Linked DNA regions of Homo sapiens: region 2 is linked to region 1. Evidence: fine-mapped expression QTL. A gene starts in region 1. The other region holds a variant in brackets. All regions are shown on one strand. Distances are between the middles of the regions.

Region 1 (5,488 bases):
CAAAACAAAAAACAAAACAAAACAAAAACAGCAACTCCCCGCCTTTGTGGGGTTCGCTTCTCACAGGGGAGTCAGGTAGCCAAGAATGCAGAAAGGCAGCCTGGCACGGAGGATGGGAAGGTGCTCACCGAGTGGGCGTGGCCTGGGGAGCTGAGGCCTGACCAAATGCGTCCCCAGCCACACGTTTCTCTGGGGACAAGCGGTCCAGGAGGGAGGAACAGGAAGTGCAGAGACCCTGAGGCAGGCCCGAAAAGCAACTCCATGCAGGTCCAGAAGAGTGCATGTGGGCCTTGCCCCAGGGGTGAAGCCCCCTCCCAAACTCAGTGAGGGCATGTGTGTGGAGGTGGGGGCAGAACCCAACTGCAAGGAAACACAACTGCCTGAGGGGTCCACGGGGCAGCATGAGGGAGATGTTAGTTTTCATTTTGGGTCCTAGATCACTGTCAGAGGTGTGTGAACCAGAGCAACTCCATCTTGAATGGGAGCTGGGTAAAATAAGGCTGGGGCCTACTGAGCTGCATTTCTGGATGGTTAAAGGATTCCAAGTCAGGATGACACAGGAGGTCGGCACAAGATACAGGTCACAAAGACCTTGCTGATAAAAGAGGTTCCGATAAAGAAGCCGGCCAAAACCCACCAAAACCAAGATGGCAACGACAGTGACCTCTGGTTGTCCTTGCCGCTACACTCCCACCAGCACCATGACGGTTTACAGATGCCACTGCAACGTCAGGAAGTTCCCCTATATGGTCTACAAAGGGGAGGGATGAATTATCCACTCCTTGTTTAGCATGTCATCCAAAAAAACATAACAATGGGCAACCAGCAGCCCTCAGGGCTGCTCTGTCTGTAGAGAAACCATTCTTTATTCCTTTACTTTCCTGATAACTTGCTTTTGCTTTACTGTATGGGCTTGCCCTGAATTCTTTCTTGCGCAAGATCCAAGAACCCTCTCTTGAGGTCTGGAACCTCTTTCCTGTAACAGCATGATTTGTTTTTCTTTTTCGGTTTGTTTGTTTGTTTTTTGAGACAGAGCTTCGCCCTTGTTGCCCAGGCTGGAGTGCAATGGCGCGATCTTGGCTCATGGCAACCTCCGCCTCCCAGGTTCAAGCGATTCTCCTGCCTCAGCCTCTGGAGTAGCTGGGATTATAAGCATGCAACACCATGCTTATATATTTATATTTATATTTAATATTTGTATCTATTTTTAGTAGAGACAGGGTTTCTCCATGTTAGTCAGGCTGGTCTCAAACCCCAGACCTCAGGTGATCCGCCCGCCTTGGCCTCCCAAAGTGCTGGGATTACAGAAGTGAGCCACTGCGCCCGGTTTTTTTTTTTTTTTTTTTTTTGAGACAGAGTTTCGCTCTGTCACCCAGGCTGGAGTGCAGTGGTGCGATCTTGGCTCACTGTAACCTCCGCCTCCCGGGTTCAAGTGATTCTCGTGCCTCATCCTCCCAAGTAGCTGGGACTACAGGTACACGCCACCACACCTGGCTGATTTTTGTATTTTTAGTGGAGACGGGGTTTCACCATGTTGCCCAAGCTGGTCTTGAACTCCTGGGCTCAAGCGATCATCCTGTCTCGGTATCCCAAGGTGTTAGGATTACAGGCATGAGCCACTGCACCTGGCCACCATTTGAATTCTTTTATGCAGTCACATATATTACTTTTAGACTTACTATATAGTTTCTAGGAGAAAGTTTTGTGCCCAACTGGCAGAAGCTACCCTTTCATATTTTTCACAAGCAAACTATTTTATTTTTATTTTTATTGAGAAGTCTCACTCTGTCTCCCAGGCTGGAGTGCAGCAGCAGGATCTCGGCTCACTGAAACCTCCGCCTCCTGAGTTCAAGGCCTCCTGCCTCAGCCTCCCGAGTAGCTGGGACTACAGGCGCCTGCCACCACACCCGGCTAATTTTTCTATTTTTATTAGAGACGGGGTTTCACCATGTTGGCCAGGCTGGTCTCGAATTCCTGACCCCACTTAGGACTCCCAAAGTGCTGGGATTACAGGCTTGAGCCACCGCGCCGACCACAAGCAAGATATTTTAAAACCTGATAGTAAAATAACAATGTGGGCGAGGGGCTGCAGAGCGCTCTGGTCACCAGGCAATGGGAAGCAGGAAGGGTGTGCGGGAGGGAGCCCCAAGCCGCGGGATGGCATCCCGGAACCTGGTCTGGTTCCAGCCTCCCAACAGCTCAGCCGTAGCCCAGGCCTCTTCAATGCACTCTGGCCGGTTGTCTCTGCACCAGGAGGTCTCCGTCCAAGTCTTGGTTAGCGCAAAGGTGGCCATGCCACTCTCAGGTTCAAAGCCCGTGCTGGGACAGAACCTAGCTTTCCCCTGCGGGGCGTCCCTGGGGCCTCTTCCTCCCTTAGCTCAATGGTCGATTCCTCTGCCCACGCCAGCTGGCGCGACCCAGAGGGTCCTGGGATCTCTCGGGGCGGGGCGCGGAGTGGACAGGGCGGGCATGGGCCCGGGGCCTGGAGAAGAGCAGGAACGGGGACGGGAGCTCGAGGGAGCAGGCCAGGGCCAGACACCGGAGCGGGTCCAGGGGACGGAGAGGGACGGGGGACAGGCTGGAGAGATGGGGCTGGGCCCTGTCTCGAGTCTCGGACCGGACGCGGGGGGGCTGGGGGGATGTAGACAGGGCGGGGTCAGAGAGAACCCGGACAGAGTCTGGGGTGCGCAGCGGGGGTGGGCGGGCTCCAGGGCAGGGCGCGGGACCGGGCGGGATGGGGCGGGGCGGGGCGGGGCGGGGCGGGGCGCCCGGGGCCCGCCCCACTGGGGGGTCTACACCGCCCGCCCGGTCTCGTGACGCTGGTCAGTGGCGCGGGTCACGAGTGCCGACTTGACAGACGGCAGCGGCGACATGGCTTCGGAGCAGGACGTGCGCGCCCGGCTGCAGCGCGCTGGCCAGGAGCACCTCCTGCGCTTCTGGGCCGAGCTGGCGCCGGAGCCACGAGCCGCGCTGCTGGCGGAGCTGGCGCTGCTGGAGCCCGAGGCGCTGCGCGAGCACTGCCGGCGGGCGGCGGAGGCCTGCGCGCGCCCCCACGGCCCGCCGCCCGACTTGGCCGCGCGCCTGCGGCCCCTGCCCCCAGAGCGCGTGGGCAGGGCCAGCCGCAGCGACCCCGAGACACGGCGGCGCTGGGAGGAGGAAGGTAAGCGGGGTGGGAGGCCCTGGGGGCCGGCAGGGGGTCGTGCCCACGGAGCGGGTGGGAACCGAGGCCGCGCTCGGGGAACTGTAGTTCTCCTCGCTACTTTGAGACGTGTCTCGCCTCACGCGTTCCGGCCCCCGAGTCCTGGCGCCCCAGCCCCAGAGTTGGTTTCCCCTAAAGCGGAAGGGTGGGCGGGTCCCGGGCGTCCCTTCACGGCGCCCGTACCCCCAGGTTTCCGTCAGATTTCTCTGAACAAGGTGGCCGTCCTGCTGCTGGCTGGGGGGCAGGGCACTCGCCTGGGCGTGACCTACCCCAAGGGTATGTACCGTGTGGGGCTGCCCAGCCGGAAGACCCTGTACCAGCTGCAGGCGGAGCGGATTCGGCGGGTGGAGCAGCTGGCCGGTGAGCGCCACGGGACCCGCTGCACCGTCCCCTGGTGTGTCCTGCCTGCCCTACCTCGGCCCGGAGGTACCCTTCCCCACGCCCCCCCACATCCCCGCTCCAGACGCGAGCCCCAACCCCGGCACAGACCGGGACATTGCCCAGAACCGGCCCAAAATGGGGCCTGGCCCCAGCCCCAACTGGACACTGGACCCCGAACCCCGATGCCGGCTCTGGTCCGAGCCCCGTCTGCCTGCAGGGCCAGGCGTACTCGCGGCCGGCTCACCGCGCCTCCCTTGCAGGTACGTCATGACCAGCGAGTTCACTCTGGGGCCCACGGCCGAGTTCTTCAGGGAGCACAACTTCTTCCACCTGGACCCCGCCAACGTGGTCATGTTTGAGCAGCGCCTGCTGCCTGCTGTGACCTTTGATGGCAAGGTTATCCTGGAGCGGAAAGACAAAGTTGCCATGGCCCCAGGTGTGGCCCGTTCCTGAGACGGGGAGGGACCGCCCAGACTAGAACTGGGAGCGTAGTTGGGGGTCCACGCGCCCGGGTTCGCGGCTGCCCCGAGGCTGTGTGGTCCTGGGTTAGGCGCCTCTTTTTCTGGGCCTTGATCGTCATTTGTCACATGGTACACCAACTGGGCTGTCTGGTTAGTGACCAGGGCTGCCTTAGGCACAAGGCCGGGGCTTCCCCCGCCTCCAGCACGTCCTAGACTCCCAGAGCGATCCCTGGCGGGAGCCCTCGCGATGCCCATTCCCTTCTCCGTCTGCAGACGGCAACGGGGGCCTCTACTGCGCGCTGGAGGACCACAAGATCCTGGAGGACATGGAGCGCCGGGGAGTGGAGTTTGTGCACGTGTACTGTGTGGACAACATCCTGGTGCGGCTGGCGGACCCTGTCTTCATCGGCTTCTGTGTGTTGCAGGGCGCAGACTGTGGCGCCAAGGTTAGCGCCCGACTGCGCGGCGCCCCGCACCCGAGGCTGGCCCCGCCCCTCACGGAGCCCCGCCCCTCCGCCCAGCCCTCGGAACCCATCCCTGGTCTTGGCTGCAGGTGGTGGAAAAGGCATACCCCGAGGAGCCCGTGGGCGTGGTGTGCCAGGTGGACGGTGTCCCCCAGGTGGTGGAGTACAGCGAGATCAGTCCTGAGACCGCACAGCTACGTGCCTCCGACGGGAGCCTGCTGTACAATGCAGGCAACATCTGCAACCACTTCTTCACCCGAGGCTTCCTTAAGGCGGTCACCAGGTGTGCGGCAGCAGGTGGCTGCGGATTGCCGGCCAGAGCCGCCTGCGTTGACCAGGGACCCGCGGGGTCCCAGTGAGCTGAGTGCCCTGGGCCACAGCGGCTGTGGTCAGGAGTGGCTGTGGTCAGGCACGGCTGATGGGTCGGGGTGGAGAATGGATCCTGAGCTTGCAAAGGCAGAGGTGCTGGAGATCAGGCACAAGCCGTGCTCAGCAGGCAGCTGCTGTAAGGCTCTGTGATCAAGTCTGCCATCTCCTCCTTCTGGGGACCTGCCCTGGTGCCCAGGGTGCTACCTCTGCTCTGGGGCTTGCCAGTTTGTTTGCCTGGGCAGGGATGTGGCTGATGGTGCCTGGCACTTGGCACAGGGATGCAGGGAGGAGGCCTGTGCCTGCTTCTCCCTGGAGATCTGGCCCTACTCTGCCGCTTCTGTGCCCTGTAGTGTCCTTCTGCCATCCTGTCCCACCCAGCTGGGTGTGCTCAGAAGTGGGGACAGAGCCCCCAGCGGTGCCATATCTGATCTGTTTCTTTCCTCCCCTCTGCTCTCCCGTGCCCCAGGGAGTTTGAGCCTTTGCTGAAGCCACACGTGGCTGTGAAGAAGGTCCCGTATGTGGATGAGGAGGGGAATCTGGTAAAGCCGCTAAAACCGAACGGGATAAAGATGGAGAAGTTTGTGTTTGATGTGTTCCGGTTTGCTAAGTTAGTA
Region 2 (5,000 bases), 69 kb after region 1:
AAACGGATGCCCCTGGCCCAGAGCAGGCCAAAGGGAGGGGGCACAGCTCACAGCTGCACCCTGGCCTTACCACAGTCTCTACACTACAACCAACCTGTGCCCAAAACATGAACCGGCAAGGCCAGGTCAGAGCTAGTCCAAGACCTCAAGCACAGCCTGCCTTGCCACCACGTCACCAGGTGGATAGACAGAAGCAGGGGACATTTTTGCACCCCAAGGCACTGCCCCAGGCCACAAAGAGGGAGCAGGTGAAAAATAACCTGGAAGCCTCAGAGGACCACAAGATCAGCAAGAGTCCACAGGGACACTGAAGGAACCAGGGCTTACCTGGACAGACACAGAGAACTGAGGCAGAGGGGGGCAGAGCCTGCTCCACTCCCGGCCATGCCACGGCACTCCGTGGCAGCTTGAAGCCAGGAAAAGCAAGCCAGGGCAAGCAAGCACCACGCTCTCGCCTGGGGAGATGAGGCCTTTAGCCCCAAGAGTGAATTCTTCTTCATACATAGAGTTGTTTAAATTTGGGAGGACTCTATGGGCAGCCCCAGGGGGATCTTCGAGGCGCTATGTGTCATCAAGAATTTCCTGAGCTCAGCTTGTCCAAAGGTGGTGGGCTGCAGGGGAAGAGGTGAGCTCACCCCAGGCACAATTCCACAGAAACCCACGTCCCTTAGGGTGCTATGGGGCCAACACTAAACCTCCTCCATTTCCGAGATTATATGTGGGAGGAGAGGCCGGGGTGGGAGAGAGGTTCCCAGGGTCTAAAAAGTGTCCCCAGGATGGTGGGGACAGGGGTGGGAAAAAGGAGGGGTCCCAGTGTCTAGAAAGTGTCCCCAGGTTGGCCGGGCGCGGTGGCTCACGCCTGTAATCCCAGCACTTTGGGAGGCCGAGGCGGGCGGATCACGAGGTCAGGAGATCGAGACCATCCTGGCTAATACGGTGAAACCCCATCTCCACTAAAAATACAAAAAAATTAGCCGGGCGTGGTGGCGGGCGCCTGTAGTCTCAGCTACTTGGGAGGCTGAGGCAGGAGAATGGTGTGAACCCAGGAGGCGGAGCCTGCAGTGAGCCGAGATTGCACTCCAGCCTGGGTAACAGTGCGAGACTGTTTAAAAAAAAAAAAAAGTGTCCCCAGGGTGGTGGGGACAGGGGTGGGAGACAGGAGGGGGTCCCAGGGTCTAGAAAGTGTCCCCAGGGGTGTGGGGACAGGAGTGAGAGGAAGGGGGTCCCAGGGTCCAGAAAGTGTCCCCAGGGTGGTAGGGACAGGGGTGGGAGACACGAGGGGGTCCCAGGGTCTAGAAAGTGTCCCCAGGGTGGCAGGGATGGGATGGGAGACACGAGGGGGTCCCAGAGTCTAGAAAGTGTCCCCAGGGGTGTGGGGACCGGGGTGAGAGGAAGGGGGTCCCAGGGTCCAGAAAGTGTCCCCAGAGGGGTGGGGACAGGAGTGAGAGGAAGGGGGTCCCAGGGTCCAGAAAGTGTCCCCAGAGGGGTGGGGACAGGAGTGAGAGGAAGGGGGTCCCAGGGTCCAGAAAGTGTCCCCAGAGGGGTGGGGACCGGGGTGAGAGGAAGGGGGTCCCAGGGTCTAGAAAGTGTCCCCAGAGGGGTGGGGACCGGGGTGAGAGGAAGGGGGTCCCAGGGTCTAGAAAGTGTCCCCAGGGGTGTGGGGACCGGGGTGAGAGGAAGGGGGTCCCAGGGTCCAGAAAGTGTCCCCAGAGGGGTGGGGACAGGAGTGAGAGGAAGGGGGTCCCAGGGTCCAGAAAGTGTCCCCAGAGGGGTGGGGACAGGAGTGAGAGGAAGGGGGTCCCAGGGTCCAGAAAGTGTCCCCAGGGTGGTAGGGACAGGGGTGGGAGACACGAGGGGGTCCCAGGGTCTAGAAAGTGTCCCCA[G/A]GGTGGCAGGGATGGGATGGGAGACACGAGGGGGTCCCAGAGTCTAGAAAGTGTCCCCAGCGGGGTGGGGACAGGGGTGGGAGACACGAGGGGGTCCCAGGGTCTAGAAAGTGTCCCCAGGGTGGTAGGGACGGGGTGGGAGACACGAGGGGGTCCCAGGGTCTAGAACGTGTCCCCATGGGGGTGGGGACAGGGGTGGGAGGAGGGGGGTTCCCAGCCTCCGGCGGGTGTTCCGGCAGTGGGAGGCGGGTGGGAGGGCGGGTCCCCGCGGGTCCACCTCAGCCCGCCGTGCCCCCGCCTCCCGCAGAGCATCCACCTGAGCTTCCTGCGCACCGTGCCGCCCTACTCCCACCAGTCCAGCGTGTGGTTTGAGATGATGCGTGTCTACAGCTGGAACCACATCATCCTGCTGGTCAGCGACGACCACGAGGGCCGGGCGGCTCAGAAACGCCTGGAGACGCTGCTGGAGGAGCGTGAGTCCAAGGTGAGGGTCGGCGCCGCGGGTGGGCGCCTGGCGGAGCCGAGGTGCAGGACGGGCCGCCTTGTGTCTGTGGCTCCGTGTGTGACACCCTCTTCTTTCCATCGTGCATGGTCAGCACCACCACGTCTGGCGAGCGCCCGCCCCAGCCTGTCCTCGGCTCATTTCACTCGCTTTTGCCATTAGTCGAAATCTCCTTCGTGTCAGTCCCTGCGGGGCGAGGGCCAGACCACCTGGAGCTCCGCAAACACCCCTGCCCCGCGCTGCCGAGCGCCCTCGTCCCCTCCTCCTGCCCATGCCCCTCGCTCCCTGGAGGCCCCAGCCGGGCTTGGGACTCGTCACCCTTCCCGCCCACCCTGTCCTGAGTCCCCAGCAGCCTCCCTCTGGGCAAGGTCTCCCCTGTACACGACCCCCACATACCGCCCCTGCAGGCCTGTCCCCTCCTGGCTGGGCCCATTCCCTGTCCTCCCCCGCGTGGCCTCCCCTGAAGCTCTGCACCTCATGGCTCAGCAAAGCCCTGTCCACAGACACCTGCCCCCCAGCCTGGACCGCCCCTGTGGGCTCCACTCCCCTCCTTGCCCCCACCACAGGGCTCCCTCTGCACTCCTCACCAAGACCCATTAGCCACCTGGTTCTAGGACACACTGACCCCCAACACAGCCAGGCGTCCACTCTGTGGGGCTGCAGAGAGATCAGAGCTGGGATTTGGGGGGGTCCGAGCGACCCCTTTCCCCTTCCTTACCACTCCCATTTGCAGTCTGGGGCAGAGCTGGTTCTCGGCTACAGACCCCCGGAGCCCTGGGTGCTCAGCACCTGGGCCAGCTCCTGATCAAGCAGTGGGAGGAGGCCCAGGCTGAGGAGGGCCAGACCTATGGGTGGCTGGGAGCATGTTTCGTGTCAGAGCTGGCTTCATCGGACTTAGGGCCAACCTAGCACCCCCCAAGGCACCCCAGGCCCCGGGAGGGACCAGAGGGCATGGGTCGGGGGTAAAGCCAGGGGCAGACCAGAGGGTCCTGGGAGTACTGTCGTGGGGGGTCTGCTGAGTCTTGGGGGGGAGGGGCATGGGCACCAAGGGCCCCACCCAAGACAGTGCCCCTCACCCCAGTGCCCGACAGGCCCCTCCCCCCAGCGCCCGACAGGCCCCTCCCCCCCAGCACCCGACAGGCCCCTCACCCCAGCGCTCGACAGGCCCCTCACCTTCTGGCATGTCCACCCACGGCCACGGACTCCCATCACACACTCACCCCTGCGCACCCAACTGCCTGCTTTCACTCACAGGTGCATGCACACATTCCCATCACACTCCACACCTCTGGCCACAGGCTCAGGCTTGCCTCCATGCAGCTCCAGCGCCACACACACACCTGGACACGTACTCAGGTGCGCTCCTCACACACACACCTGGACACGCACAGGTGCGCTCCTCACACACACACCTGGACACACGCTCAGGTGCGCTCCTCATGTGCATGCTCACCCTTACTTGCGCCAGCCAGCACAGACACACATGCACACACGCACACACGTGCACAGGCACACACATGCACACATGCACACGCACACACATGCACACACGCACACACAAGCACGCACACACGCACATGCACACATGCACACACACAAGCATGCTCAGACCATCTGGCCCTTCCCCAACCTTCACAGGCCTTTGTGGACTAACCCTCCCATGCTGACACCCACAGGCGCATGCCACCCCTGCAGGCGCACATAACGCACACACACCCTCTTGGGCGCATATGCGAGCCGAAGGGCGTGGGCACCCCAGTTAGTGAGGATACCTCGGTCTCTTGAGAGGCAGAGGGAGACCAAGGAGAGGGAGGGGGAGGGACATGGGGACAGGCCCCGGGGGGGCTGCTCACCTCCCACTCAGGACTGACACAGGTTGGAGTGGGCACTGCTGGGGCCACACAGCAGGTGCACGGCAGGGTGGGGGCGGCAGGTGGGGCTCCCTCCGAACGGTGGACGCGGACAGGGCCTCCTTTTCTCCCGAGAGCGACCGTTTCCAAGAGCACAGCTTCGTGGCAGGGAGCCTCCACGGCCCCGCCCCTACGACCCTCACCCCCAGCTCCACCCCGGCCCCCAGCCCCGCCCCGGGCCTCGGTGTTTGCGAGCTCCAGGTAGGAGCCCGTCTGCAGACGTGCCGAGGAGGTGGTGTGATTGCTTTAGCGCCGTCATTTTCAACCGTTTATAATCTTCTTCTGTGTCTGCATATTTTCTCTGTGCACATTATTCATCAGAGTAAAAAAAGGAACTATGAAAACCTCGACCAACTGTCCTATGACAACAAGCGCGGACCCAAGGTATATATGCATGGACGTGCACGCCACCCACGGCTAGGGAGCCCTGGCCTCGGCGCCTCGGCCACTAGGGCCACTGTCTGGCCCAGCCGCCGAGCCGCAGGCCCAAGCAATGAGGAGAGGCAGCCGGCAGCAGGCAGGAGAGGGCAGGCAGGAGAGGGCAGGCGTGGCGGCGTGGGTGCCTGAGGCCCACCCGCCGTGACCCTAGCCTGCACCCTCGAGGCAGGCGCGGCTGCAGGAGGAGCTGCTCTCCGGGAAGTGCATGCGAATCTCCGAGACCCCAAGGGTTTCCTCGTGGAACCCGGGAGGGAGCCCGCCCGCCTG

Alleles and levels. Alleles are on the strand shown, and positions count from the first base shown. SD is a standard deviation of normalised expression in the study named.
For the expression in subcutaneous fat of the gene that starts at base 2,856 in region 1, allele G in region 2 goes with a higher level than allele A (large effect, 2.4 SD a copy in FUSION).

The links.
Region 2: its variant is fine-mapped to the expression of UAP1L1 in subcutaneous fat (FUSION, PIP 0.95).

Annotation. Positions count from the first base shown.
Region 1 is chr9:137,074,662-137,080,149 of GRCh38, forward strand. It overlaps UAP1L1 (UDP-N-acetylglucosamine pyrophosphorylase 1 like 1), which reads left to right and starts at 2,856. Exons shown (of 9, transcript NM_207309.3): 1 at 2,856-3,160; 2 at 3,389-3,593; 3 at 3,841-4,016; 4 at 4,315-4,487; 5 at 4,595-4,788; 6 at 5,341-5,481. The coding sequence starts at 2,872. RefSeq lists enhancers at 1-234, 1-4, 3,580-4,458 and silencers at 2,689-2,778, 2,789-3,038, 3,049-3,108, 3,119-3,218.
Region 2 is chr9:137,143,536-137,148,535 of GRCh38, forward strand. GRIN1 (glutamate ionotropic receptor NMDA type subunit 1) reads left to right here. Exons shown (of 20, transcript NM_007327.4): 3 at 2,191-2,367. Among named protein-coding and RNA genes, the nearest start is that of GRIN1, 6.9 kb to the left of the region's middle. The variant G/A (reference allele first, on the strand shown) is at 1,884.